Homo sapiens: one gene and its partner. The protein of the gene in region 2 interacts with the protein of the main gene of each other region in a pairwise test. Each region holds a gene or a part of one and is shown on either strand. Other genes may lie near its edges.

Region 1 (3,988 bases), on a different chromosome or scaffold from region 2:
AGATGATAATACTTCAGGGTTTGGCTCTGGCTCAGTGTCTAAACAAAAGCAGCATACCAGAAGACCTGTTAAATTCTTAAAAACCTGCCTCCCTCCCCCACCCAGTTCCACAGCCTCCAATCCTGACTTACAGGCCCATGGCCATTCAGCTGCCCATAATAGGTACACGCAGCACTCCTCACAAGACTGTCTATGGAAACCCATAGAAGTGCTCTTAGACACACAGCTCATCTATACTGCTGTGCTTCCGTCTCTTAGATTTGAAAATTGCCTTCTTAGCAAACTGTCTCTTAGCAAATGTAGTTACAAATTTAAGGGAGCCACTTTAGTCATTGTCCCTACGGAATAATTCTGTTTACTTCAAAACAGCCAGCACATCTTCCCCCTCCTCAACCAACACAAAGACATCGTGTTCTTCAAGGATCCACCATCTGAGACCAGCTTGTTAATAACAAAATTATTCCAGGCCTTGGTGTTCTCTCATCTATGAAATAAACATCCGTTTAAAACAGACCAATCAAATGGGGTTTGGAGACTGCGTCAGCCATCTTTATTGCGCTCTAAAGAACAGCTCGAGACACACAGAGACAGTGGATTTTCAAAGAGGTGTTTTCTTGACCCAGTTAAATTTTTATTCAGTGAAAAAAGTTGACATTGAGACAAAAATTATCTTAAAGTTGTGCAACAATACAGTAAAACCTTCAGCAGATTTCAGTGACTTGGAAACTTATCGAGGCAATTGAAATTATAAATACTTAATTTCGCTTTGGAGAGAAACAAGTATACAGTGTTTCACTTTAAATAAGAGTAGAATAGGCCTTTATTTTGCCGCAAATACTTTTGATTTTGCCTAAAGTTTCTAATAGTTCATAACAAGAGTCTTTAAATGAGAAGTGACATAGAATATTTGAGGATAATGGTCCACTCCAGCATTCATGCTTATTCCATTTGAGCTATTACACATGAAACTCATACCATTCTTGGGTTATTACTTGGCTGTGACGATTTAATTCATAATATGGCTGCTCAAAATTAGTGGGCAGAAACATACATACAACCCATCCTCCCTCAACCCATTTTCGGTGCTGGTACTCCATCTGAAAACACACTTACTGTCCATGTACCCAGCAGTACATATCTCTTCCTATCTATTCCATATCTCAGTCTTGCATAGAAAGTAGTCTATATAAACTTAATGCACTGGCTTTTATTACACAAAAATTGTACCTGAAAGGCAGCACACACTCCAGTTAAGAAAAATAACACAACAGGAATGTCAAGATACAATCCCAACACAAGATTCTGCACAGAGTTTTAGAGTCAATTCCTAAAATCAATATGGGATGATATTCAGTTTAGTTATGTCTCTGGATGCCTTCTCTAAGGGACTCATCCAACTGTCTGCAGAAGGAAGAAAATTTTCAGGAATTCCCCATGACTCCCTTCATGAAGAAGGGACTGACCAAACCTGATAGGATGGTGTTTCTGCCCTAAGGAAGTGTACTGGAAATATAATCTTACTAGATGCAGTGACCACTTGGTAAGCATCTGAAGGCAGCATTCGCCAAGAAGGAGTAGGCGCTCATCTCTAAGGGGCTCACCATACTATTGCTCTCCCAAGCTTCCCCTGAAAATGGCCAGTTCTGAGAAGGGTTACATTCCCTAAATTGCTGAGTACAGCTTCATCTAGTGGGCCAAACATGATGGGCAGGAGAGAACAGGCAGCTGTGTGTCTTCTGTCTGTCCCACCCAAATATCCCTGGTGATGCTACCAAAGACAGAACCCCAGGAATTACTTGTCCAAAAGTCAGAGTTTCAACCAGTTACCCAGAATGATAACTATTTACCCAGCTTGTCAAGGTAGCCAGTAGTTCCTGGAGCTTCTCACCTGTCTGGAACTAGGACTGCACAGACATGGCCTCTTCCTGGAATCCTCTGTAGAACTCCACTCTCTAACATTTTATCCATGTGGACTCGTATCTCATAAAGCTCAAGGGGCATTCAATACATCCAGGAGTAAAATCGGTTTCCAGAGAAAACTCATAAGCAAACCCCCTGCCCACCAATTTTTAGAGGCCCATCGTGGTCCACATGGATGCAAGCATCTGACATTCTAATGTATGCCAGGAGAGAATAAAACCTTTTTCCTGCACAGTGTGAACTTCTGAGGTGGCATCTCCAACAAGGTACAAAAGCCCCTTCTTCACAAGCAAGCAGGGACTCCGATTGGTCACAGTGAAGACAGTTATGTGGTCACCTTCAGAGGCTGCCTGTAGTACAAGGCATTTGTTTTCATTTTCTATTGGCACTCCAACCTCTGGATTCTTTCAGACAGCATATATACATGAAATCCCCACAAAGCTACACAGAGGGAAACAGGAGTGTGTGCTTCAAAAGTTCATAAAAATATACAATTTACATATAGCTGCAGCTATCTAGCTTAGTCTTCAGGAACTTAGCTCTTCTGTTTATATAAAATACTCTAGCCCTAAAAGGCTGCTTTTTTTCAAACAGCACAGTGGCATTTTCCAAGGAGAGGGGTGATGGCCAGTCTACAGTACTGTGCACTAAGCATTGGGAGGCACTGGTAGCTAGAACCGGATGCTCGGAAATATCTCAAGCTGCCAACTGGAGACATATGCTCTGTAAAAAGGCTTGCCTATGGAATAACTGAAAATAACATCTCAGAGCCTTTTATATCAGCTTTTACAAATGCCACCAAAAAGTTGGCAGAAAAAGAAAAGAAAATACACTTCCTAGTGGTTCAATTAAATGACTTGCCTCCCACCAGGTTGTTAATGATTCAACTATTTAAAGAGCTTATTAAAGGGGAGGTGGTAGGGCTTAGAGTTTTGAACAAATCTCTACGGTAAGACAAGATAAAGCCAAAAAAAATTCCAGTCTTTAAAAAAAAAAACTTAGGAAAGTGACAGGAAAGAAGAGAAAATACGCTAGAAGAAGGCTTATCATTACCACCAGTTGTTAACATGAAATACAGTCCTACCCGTATGGCAAACTAAAGGTCGACAGCTTAAAATACTCATCTAAGTATACATATAAATAAAAATTTCAAAAACTAAAAAATTTAATTGGCTCTTTCTTTGTTTTCTAAACAATCCCTAAGTAGAATGAAACTATATTATCACCCAAGAATGATACTTGTGGTTAAAAGAAACTAAACACTTGTGAGAAGGTGATGCCTCGCACCTAAGCGGGGATGGGGTTTTACAAAGCTTGCACGTCAAGGACACATATTCAGAGACATGACTTTGGAATATTCCCAGACCTCACTGCTTCTTGGCTGAAAGGAAATTCTTCAGTGAGAATCATACAGCACAAGTCACAACGATGCTCGACATTGGTGCCCACAACACTAAGCCTAAATAAAGGGCTTGCATCAGCCCACGATGGATTCTACATAAGTATCAAGTGGCCATGGTTTGAATACACGGGTGGCATTTTAAAGGCAGAAGAAAAAAAGCACAGCTTGTTTTACAGAGAGAATAAATGAACAAACTCTAGTGCTCCTGCTGTTGTTAACTGGATTGAGTAGTCTCAACTTTTTAGATCTTCTCTATCTCTATGAGAATGTACAGCACTGTCTCTTTAGATTGGGTGGGGGCATGGGTGAGGGAGATGGAAGAAGAGGAGAAAAAAAAAGAGAAGGCACTGTCCAATTCAAAATGACTGCATATATCAGTATGGATTTTTAAGGACAATAAGTGGCCATCTCAAACCAAATACATAATTTTACATCTGAGATCCTTCAGTAGTAAGTAAAAACAAAAAATGGAAAATGGAAAAATTATGTACTCTATTAGCCAGTGTATGGATCATGGCACAGATCTAGAACTCTCCCCCACAACCAGGGTAAGTTTTTGCAATGACAATGAAACCAGTGTGTAATAAAGCAGTGTTATCATTTTGTAGCTCTCAAAGCTACATCTTGTACAGAGGCACATACAGTAAAATTCCATCAATTAATATA
Region 2 (7,447 bases):
ATACACAAAGCTCCAGAGTCTCCTCCCTTAGGACACCAGTGGGACTCTAGAAGGAACACTATCACCGTGTGACTCACGTCATCTGCACACATAATTAGGAATCCCCTGCACAATTAACATGCCAGGTGGATTTGCATTTTTTTAAAGGAGGCTTTTAATCCAAAAAAATATTTATAACCTAGAGAGTGGAATGGGGAAGGAGGATGCTTTTTAATCCTGGCTTTCACCCAGATCCAAGCATCCCAAACCCAAATAAGCACTCACTGCCACAATGATCCCCACTCCTAAGTAGAAATGGAATTTTAGCTGTGCCTTGCTAGCACTAAAATTAACACATTGTAAGATAAAATAATTTAATTTAAACTGGGCAAGGAAGAAAGGTCATGCTCTCTGCCTCTAATGAAAAGCACCTCTAGAATTCCACCCCAAGCGTTCAGAGAGCGACGTCAACCAAGGAGGCCCACAAGTAATGCAGCGGATACTGAGAGGACCTCTCTCATCTCATAAGCTAGAGAAACTGTTACCAAATGGCTTAAAATAGCGGTTTCCAAGTTTGTTTTCCTTCTTTCATATGTATTCTCACTAGAAAAACACCCAACCCCTGTGCCTTGTCCATATTTGGTGCTCAAAAAACGTTAATTCCCAGCCTCCACCTGTCACCCTACTTTCCCTGGAAAGGAATGTTGGGATTAGGAGAGTTAGCTTTGCAGGCTTCTTGCTCTTAAGCCAGGGCTCATAACACCTTCATTTGTGGCAATAGCCAAGTCCTTAATAAGAATCATAAGAGTTGCATCTATTGAGAGATTTTTTTTTCAGTCAGGCACTAGGCTACATGCTTTACATATTTTTATCTCATTTGATCTCTACGACAACCCTCTGAGGTAGGTATTTTCAGTTATTATTACTGTTATTAGAGATATTTTGTGAATTTTTTTTTTAATCTGAGCATTGAAGAAGTTAAGTAACTTGTCTGAGGTTCCCACAGCCCAGAAATGATAGAATGATAGAATGGGGATTCCATGCAAAGTGATCTGGCTCAAAAGTTGGGTTCTTATTCACCGTGCTGTATGTTTGTTATTATATGGGTTCAGATATTTTATGGTCCAGAAAAAAAGTGTCTGAATTATTATGATCTACTGACTCTCTAAACAACGTCCAGAAAAAGAACAGAAGCATACCCGTGCCATCTCATTTAGACATGCAAAGAAAGTAGCACATATTTCATGGAATTTGGGGACTGGCTTTTGAGGAATAGAGACTTGCTTATCATTCATCAACCAACTCGTTCTCCCAAGAGGAAGGCCACTTTAATTCCTGGATAATTGAAGGGCCTCCTTAAAATGAAGAAACCAGAGGTGGAGGTCTTACTGGTACCCCGAGCCACACGAACCTTTCTCTGCATAAATGATGTCCTAAGGGAAGACAGTAGAGGGCAAATGGAGGCCCACAGCCAGGCACAGGGATGCAGAAAGCAGCCCCAAGTGGGAAGAGGCCACGCTCGACAAGCTCCCTCTCACATGGAATTCTGCTGGTGCCGTGAGAGCCGAGGAAGCGCAGCCGCAGGGCAGAAGGAGACCAAGGACTATTGAATGGGGTCACTTCTCCCCAGTGCCTGCAAGGTCCTCGCTTTTGTGTCCACACCCTAACTGTCTAATCTGATTTCCTGCAATGTGTAAAACAAACTGTCTTCTCTTCTCCAGTGTCTCTTCAACTGGCCTTATCATCTCCAGGTCAGTCTCGCCTTTGTGCCTTTGCCCACAAGGTCCTCCCAGTCTGAAATCACCTGCCCCTTCTCCTTCTACCGACACTTCGCATTCTTCCAAAGCCCAGATCTTCCTGACAACTCCAGTTTGCCCCCAGGCCCCCTCCATGGAATTCACAGAACTCTTCAAGCCTGTGCTGCCCCACTCATCACTGAATTCTCATCTTGCATTGCTTCCTAAATTTTACTTCTTATCACAACTACCAGATTATAGGGTCCTTCAAAGTAGAGATTTTTAAAATATTTCTCTTATATCCTCCACGGCACCAGCTTAGAACCAATAAGGGGACACCAACTACTTGTTGCCTGCTTGAATACGTCAATGGCAACTTTCATTTAGTAAAGCACCTAAAACCGGTGATTTCCCAAACTTTGTTTAGTTACAACTCAGGCTACTGACTGGTACCTCGTAGCATATCTCCAAATCAAACCACCTCAGAAGAAAGATTAAATTTAATTAAAAAATACATGTTATACATCATAGAGCACTTTTGGGAAATGGTCATTAACATTGGCAATAGGTGAAAAACACAAGCTAGAAATTCCAGATTGAAATCTACATCATTTAGACTTCGGTTCTGTTTCTTTTCTGAACTAGACAACTTTAAAATTCATATTTGCACAACTTAGAGCATCTTTAGATTTACTTCATCAAACCTTGGGTAGTATTTAAACTACCCATACAGTTGAGCTCAGCCACAGTCACAAGCATATGCATTCTCTAGAATATCTGGAAAACCAAAAAGCCAACTATTGTAACTTTTCATGTTTCAAAAATCTTGTTAGGACTGTGGTGAGGGGCAGTGAATATCAAAGCAACACTCACCCCCCCGACCCCCGTCCCCCTGTAAATTGATTCTACACCTTACAGCAGGTAGCTCAGAGTCATTACGATGTTTGGCCTAGAGTAAAAGCTAAATAAAATTAGAAAAATTTCTTTTGACACCAAAGAAATACTTTTAAGGAAGCAAAATCCTTACCTGTTGCAGAATGCCGAAGAAATGTCTTGACAGTAAAATGACTGACTCCGGAAATCAAATTTGTTCAACAAAAGCAGGTGAAAACAAAAGCGGCCCAAGCCTTTTCACTGTGGTTGATTTCCTCATAGGATCAACCTCTCCCTCGTTCCCGAGAATATTAACTGATTCACACTGGAAGAACTGAAAATACAACAGTTGGGCTGGCAGGGAGTCCACCCCAAGATGGTTGGGTTAGTGTGTGTGGGGCAGCAGGAGCAATCCGAATGTGACAAAAGAGATTAGCAAGTTCCTGTGCCTAAGTCAATTTCCTGTAGCCGGCTTCTCCGCAGAGGGGGTTTCATTTGTGTGGGTTTAGGGGGGTGTGTGTGCACGTGCGTTTCTCTCCATTAGAATATGAAACTTCCCCAGATCAGAGGCAGAATAAGGCCTTTGCCGCACCGCTGGGTTTGCGTTTAATTTATCCCCCACCCTACTCCGAGACTATGTTTCTCTCCCCCTTAGCCCCATTTTCCTCCAGCAAAGCCCTACGTAAAACTGAAGAAAGGAAGACTGAAGAGTCCAAATGATTCCTCATGGAAGTAAAATTACCAAAAAAAAAAAAAAAAAAAGTCCATGCCACTGACCAATCTTGGTTAATTTGAGCTTAGGAAACAACACCTTAGAACTTTCCCCCCATCAGCTTGGGGAAAACAAGAGGTGGATTGTCTGCTTCGCTTTGCTGCATTAAAAACTATCAAATATTTTGCAAAGAACAGAGGCAGGCTTAGTGAGAGTTCGAGCAGCCCCCTGCCGTGCGTTCACCCCTGTATGGACGAGCACCTGGGCTGGGAGTTACCTGGCGATGAGTTGTTTTTTCAGACTCCTCAGAGTTTCATTATTTGCCTAAAAACACAAGTTTACTTGTTTTGTCCTAATGGGCAATCCAGGTGTAGAGACCATCTGCAACTACTTAGGTTATGGCTAAACGCCTAACCCAACAAATTGAACTTTTGTGATGTGGTCACAACCGCCTGTGCCCCAAATCCCTGAATAACTAACTGTTGATGCTACTGCTCACGGTGATAGCTTGGTCAAAATACCTGCCGACCGTAAGGATAAAGTCAACTCCATGCCTTTTATTTTATTTTATCAGTGCATCGGCCCCACACTCAAAGATTTGAGTTTAATTGAGCTGGGTTGGGACCGGACATCAATATTATTTTAAACCCCTCTGATTATTCTAAAGTACTGCTGCCACTCTAATGGATGAGAAGGAGGAAAGAACATTCCACGTAGAGGCAAATAGTATGTGCAAAGGCCCTGAGGTGGGAAAGAGGTTGGCATGTTCAAAGAAGTGAAAGCAGATGACTGTGCTTGCAGCATAGTTGTAGAGGGAATCAATGGTACAAGGTGAGCATTCTTATCAATAGACACCCAATTACCAAGTTCACAAGACTTCCACATGAACCCATGTGTCAATTTGTTAATGCACAGTAAGAACTCAATCTGCCAGCTGAGATCCTCGAGCCTTCTGAAGAGCACATTATCTCCTAGAAAATCCTCTGTGGGAGGCCAGGTGCAGTGGCGGTGGCTCACACCTGTAATGCCAGCACTTTAGGAGGCTGAGCGGGGAGCATTGCTTGAACCTAGGAGTTCGGGACCAGCCTGGGCAACGTAGTGAGATCCCATCTCTACAAAAATTAGCTGGGCAACCACACCTGTAGTCCCAGCTACTCAGGAGTCCGAGGCAGGAGGATTGCTTGAACCCATGAGGTTGAGGTTGCAGTGAGCTGTGATCCACCACCACACTCCAGCCTGGGGACACAGCAAGACCCTGTCTCGAAAAAAGAGAGAGAGGGACAGACAGAAGGAGGGAAGGGAAGGAAAAGGAAGAGAAGGGGAGGGAAGGAAGGAAGGAAGGAAGGAAGGAAGGAAGGAAGGAAGGAAGGAAGGAAGGAAGGAAGGAAAAGAAAGAAAGGAAAGAAAGGGAAAATCCTCTGTGGAAAGCCAGATCACCATGGTGATGTTATCAGCTGAGCAGAACATAAGCTTGTGGATATTTTCTTTATCTACTTCTGGTTTTGTTCATCAAAGGATTTAGAGCATCTGGCAAAAATACTTACACCTTAGCAAAATGAAACAATTAAAAACAAGAAATTTGAAAATGAGGCCAAGAGAAGTGAAGACAAAAATGACACTAAAACTGGGGGTGAGGTTAATTACAGAGAATGTATGCCACGTGGTTCTATGCTCTTCAGCAACTGGTATGAAGCAGGAAATATCACCACACAGAAAGCTCATTGCCCGCGGGAGAAACATAAACACATAGCTCAGAATCATGAGGTCTTCCTGGCTCCCCAGTGCTGAGATTAAAGAGAAACTTTGCCCCCTGGATTCCCATAGAGAAGACAACACGGCTGAAGTGAAACACCATGTTTAGACTCCACGCAGCCAGCCACAAGTCCGTGAGGTGGTTCCTTACGCTGTTCCTCCATATATGCTGATTGCATCTCACCGAAGAGTTTACTAAAAGCAACTCCAGGGTGTGCGGCAGGGAGAGTGCAGCAGGAGATTAGTAAGAATGTGCCACCCCACAGCACCACTTTGATGTTCCAGTTTTATCCAGAGATGAAAAATGACTTCATGGGCCGGGCGCAGTGGCTCACGCCTATAATCCCCACACTTTGGGAGGCCGAGGCAGGCGAATTGTTTGAGCCCAGGAGTCCAAGACCAGCCTGAGCAACATAGCGACACCCAGTCTCTAAAATAATACTAATAATAACAATGACAATAGGCCGAGTGCTGTGGCTCACGCCTATAATCCCAAAACTTTGGGAGGCCGAGGAGGGCAGATCGCTTGAGGTCAGGAGTTCGAGACCAGCCTGGCCAACATGGTGAAACCCCGTCTCTTCTAAAAATACAAAAATTAGCCAGGCACGGTAGCTCATGCCTGTAATCCCAGCTACTCGAGAGGCTGAGGCAGGATAATTGCTTGAACCCAGTAGGCAGAGGTTGTAGTGAGGCAAGATCATACCACTGCACTCCAGCCTGGGCAACAGAGTGAGACGTCAGCCTAAAAAATAATAATAATAATAATAATAAAGAAAAATGACTTCAGATATGCTTCAGAAAATTCAGGATAAAAAGTTTCTCTCATCCAAGTTTCTAAAAGATTTAAAGAGGCAAAGAGTTCAAAATTGGTTGCCCCTCCAACAGGAGATCCAGTGTCCTTTAAGGGGGACAATGTCTCCCCTTCAGAAAGCAGAGGAGTCAGACAAGGACAGCTGCCTGTATGGACAGATCCCCTCCATCTCCTAAGTAGAAGGGGAGATGAGGCTCTGCCCTTTGGGAAACAAAGCAAGAAACGCCACCAGCATGATTTATAACGAGCTCCAGGCCTCAGGCCTTGTACCATTTTCTGCACGAAAGTGGAGACGTACTCCAGAGTCAGGATGGACTGGGTGTGTCCCACCCCATCCTGGAAAGGACTAGGAAGGGCATTGTCATACCTGGCTGCGAGACCCCTGTCCCTTTCACCCCCTGGCTGACCACCCTTCTGCTTCTGAAGAACTGGTTTTCTGTGCCTGGAATTGCCAGTTTTAGATGATCTGGTACAGTCCAGCGTTGGGCTTCCTCCTGCTCCTGACCTACACGCCTCTAATCTTCACACAGTTTAATCTCAGAGAGGATTTTCTTAGGGGGAGGGGACAGGGGGTTGCCATCTAATTTTCTTCCTTCCTTGAAAATGTCTTTTTGGTGTTTCTCTCTTTCTCTCTCCCCACTCCCCTCCTCCCCCACCCCGCCCCTCCTCTCCTCTCTCTCTCTCTCTCTCTCTCTCTCTCGCTCTCATTCTTTTAACAGACTTTTAACCGACAGGGGTAGTGGTGAGGGGAGGAAGCAAACGCTGAAAATACATGCAAACATTCACAGACATACACGCACCCAAGCCCCAGGGCGTGTCCCTTCTGACGCTGTGCAGTCTGTCCTTGGGATGGGGTTGGGAGAAATCCTGGGGACTTCAGAGTGGCAGGAGGAGGGAAACCATGGGTCCACAGTTCGTAACTGGGAATCAGAGCCCCCCTCTGAGCCATCTTCCAGGAAGCCATCTGTAGCCACCACCCACCTCCATTGCAAGCCCAGTGAGGTGCCCTCCCAAGGGCTCCATAGCACGTCGTGTTAACACGGCCAGAGCACTCACCAAATGGCCCTGCAGTGTTCACTTCAGAGGTCCCAGGGCTCAGGGTCCAGCCTTGCCCACTCAGAAATCCAAGGTACTGAACAACCACTTTCTGACCAATAAATAGATTGATTCTCCCATCTCACAGCCTCACAGCTGCCCTTTATGGTAAACACTTTAAACCCTATTTTAACAGCCAAGGAAACAGAGACTTCAGCTGGTTAAATGATTTGCATAAGACCCTATGGCCTAAGAAAACCAGAACCAAGATTCACCCCATTCATCTGTCCTGGCTGTCACTCCCGCTGCCTCCCCACAGAGAGAACTGAACCACCGTGGGCAACGAGGAGCAGCCAGAGCCCCAAGGCCCATTTTCTTGGCCCTAAACATGCCCCCTCCAGGATTCCCTGTGCAAACGGTCCCCTTCAGGTCAAGGTGAAAAAGCAAAGACTTACTTTCTCAAAACCACCTTCATCAGAAATGTTCTCTGATATGGCAAAAGAACAGCTTACTTTAATATTCTCCTGTGAACAAAGACCTCTTTTATTG

What was found.
Region 1: the proteins of RHOH (region 2) and SORL1 interact in binary tests that used the Homo sapiens proteins (3 or more experiments, as listed by UniProt).

Annotation. Positions count from the first base shown.
Region 1 is NC_000011.10:121,630,298-121,634,285, reverse strand, and holds the end of SORL1 (sortilin-related receptor preproprotein), read right to left. Parts: 3' UTR 523-3,988; downstream 1-522. UniProt on the Homo sapiens protein: Sorting receptor that directs several proteins to their correct location within the cell. Along with AP-1 complex, involved Golgi apparatus - endosome sorting.
Region 2 is NC_000004.12:40,192,596-40,200,042, reverse strand, and holds the start of RHOH (rho-related GTP-binding protein RhoH precursor), read right to left. Parts: upstream 3,013-7,447; 5' UTR 2,743-3,012; intron 1-2,742.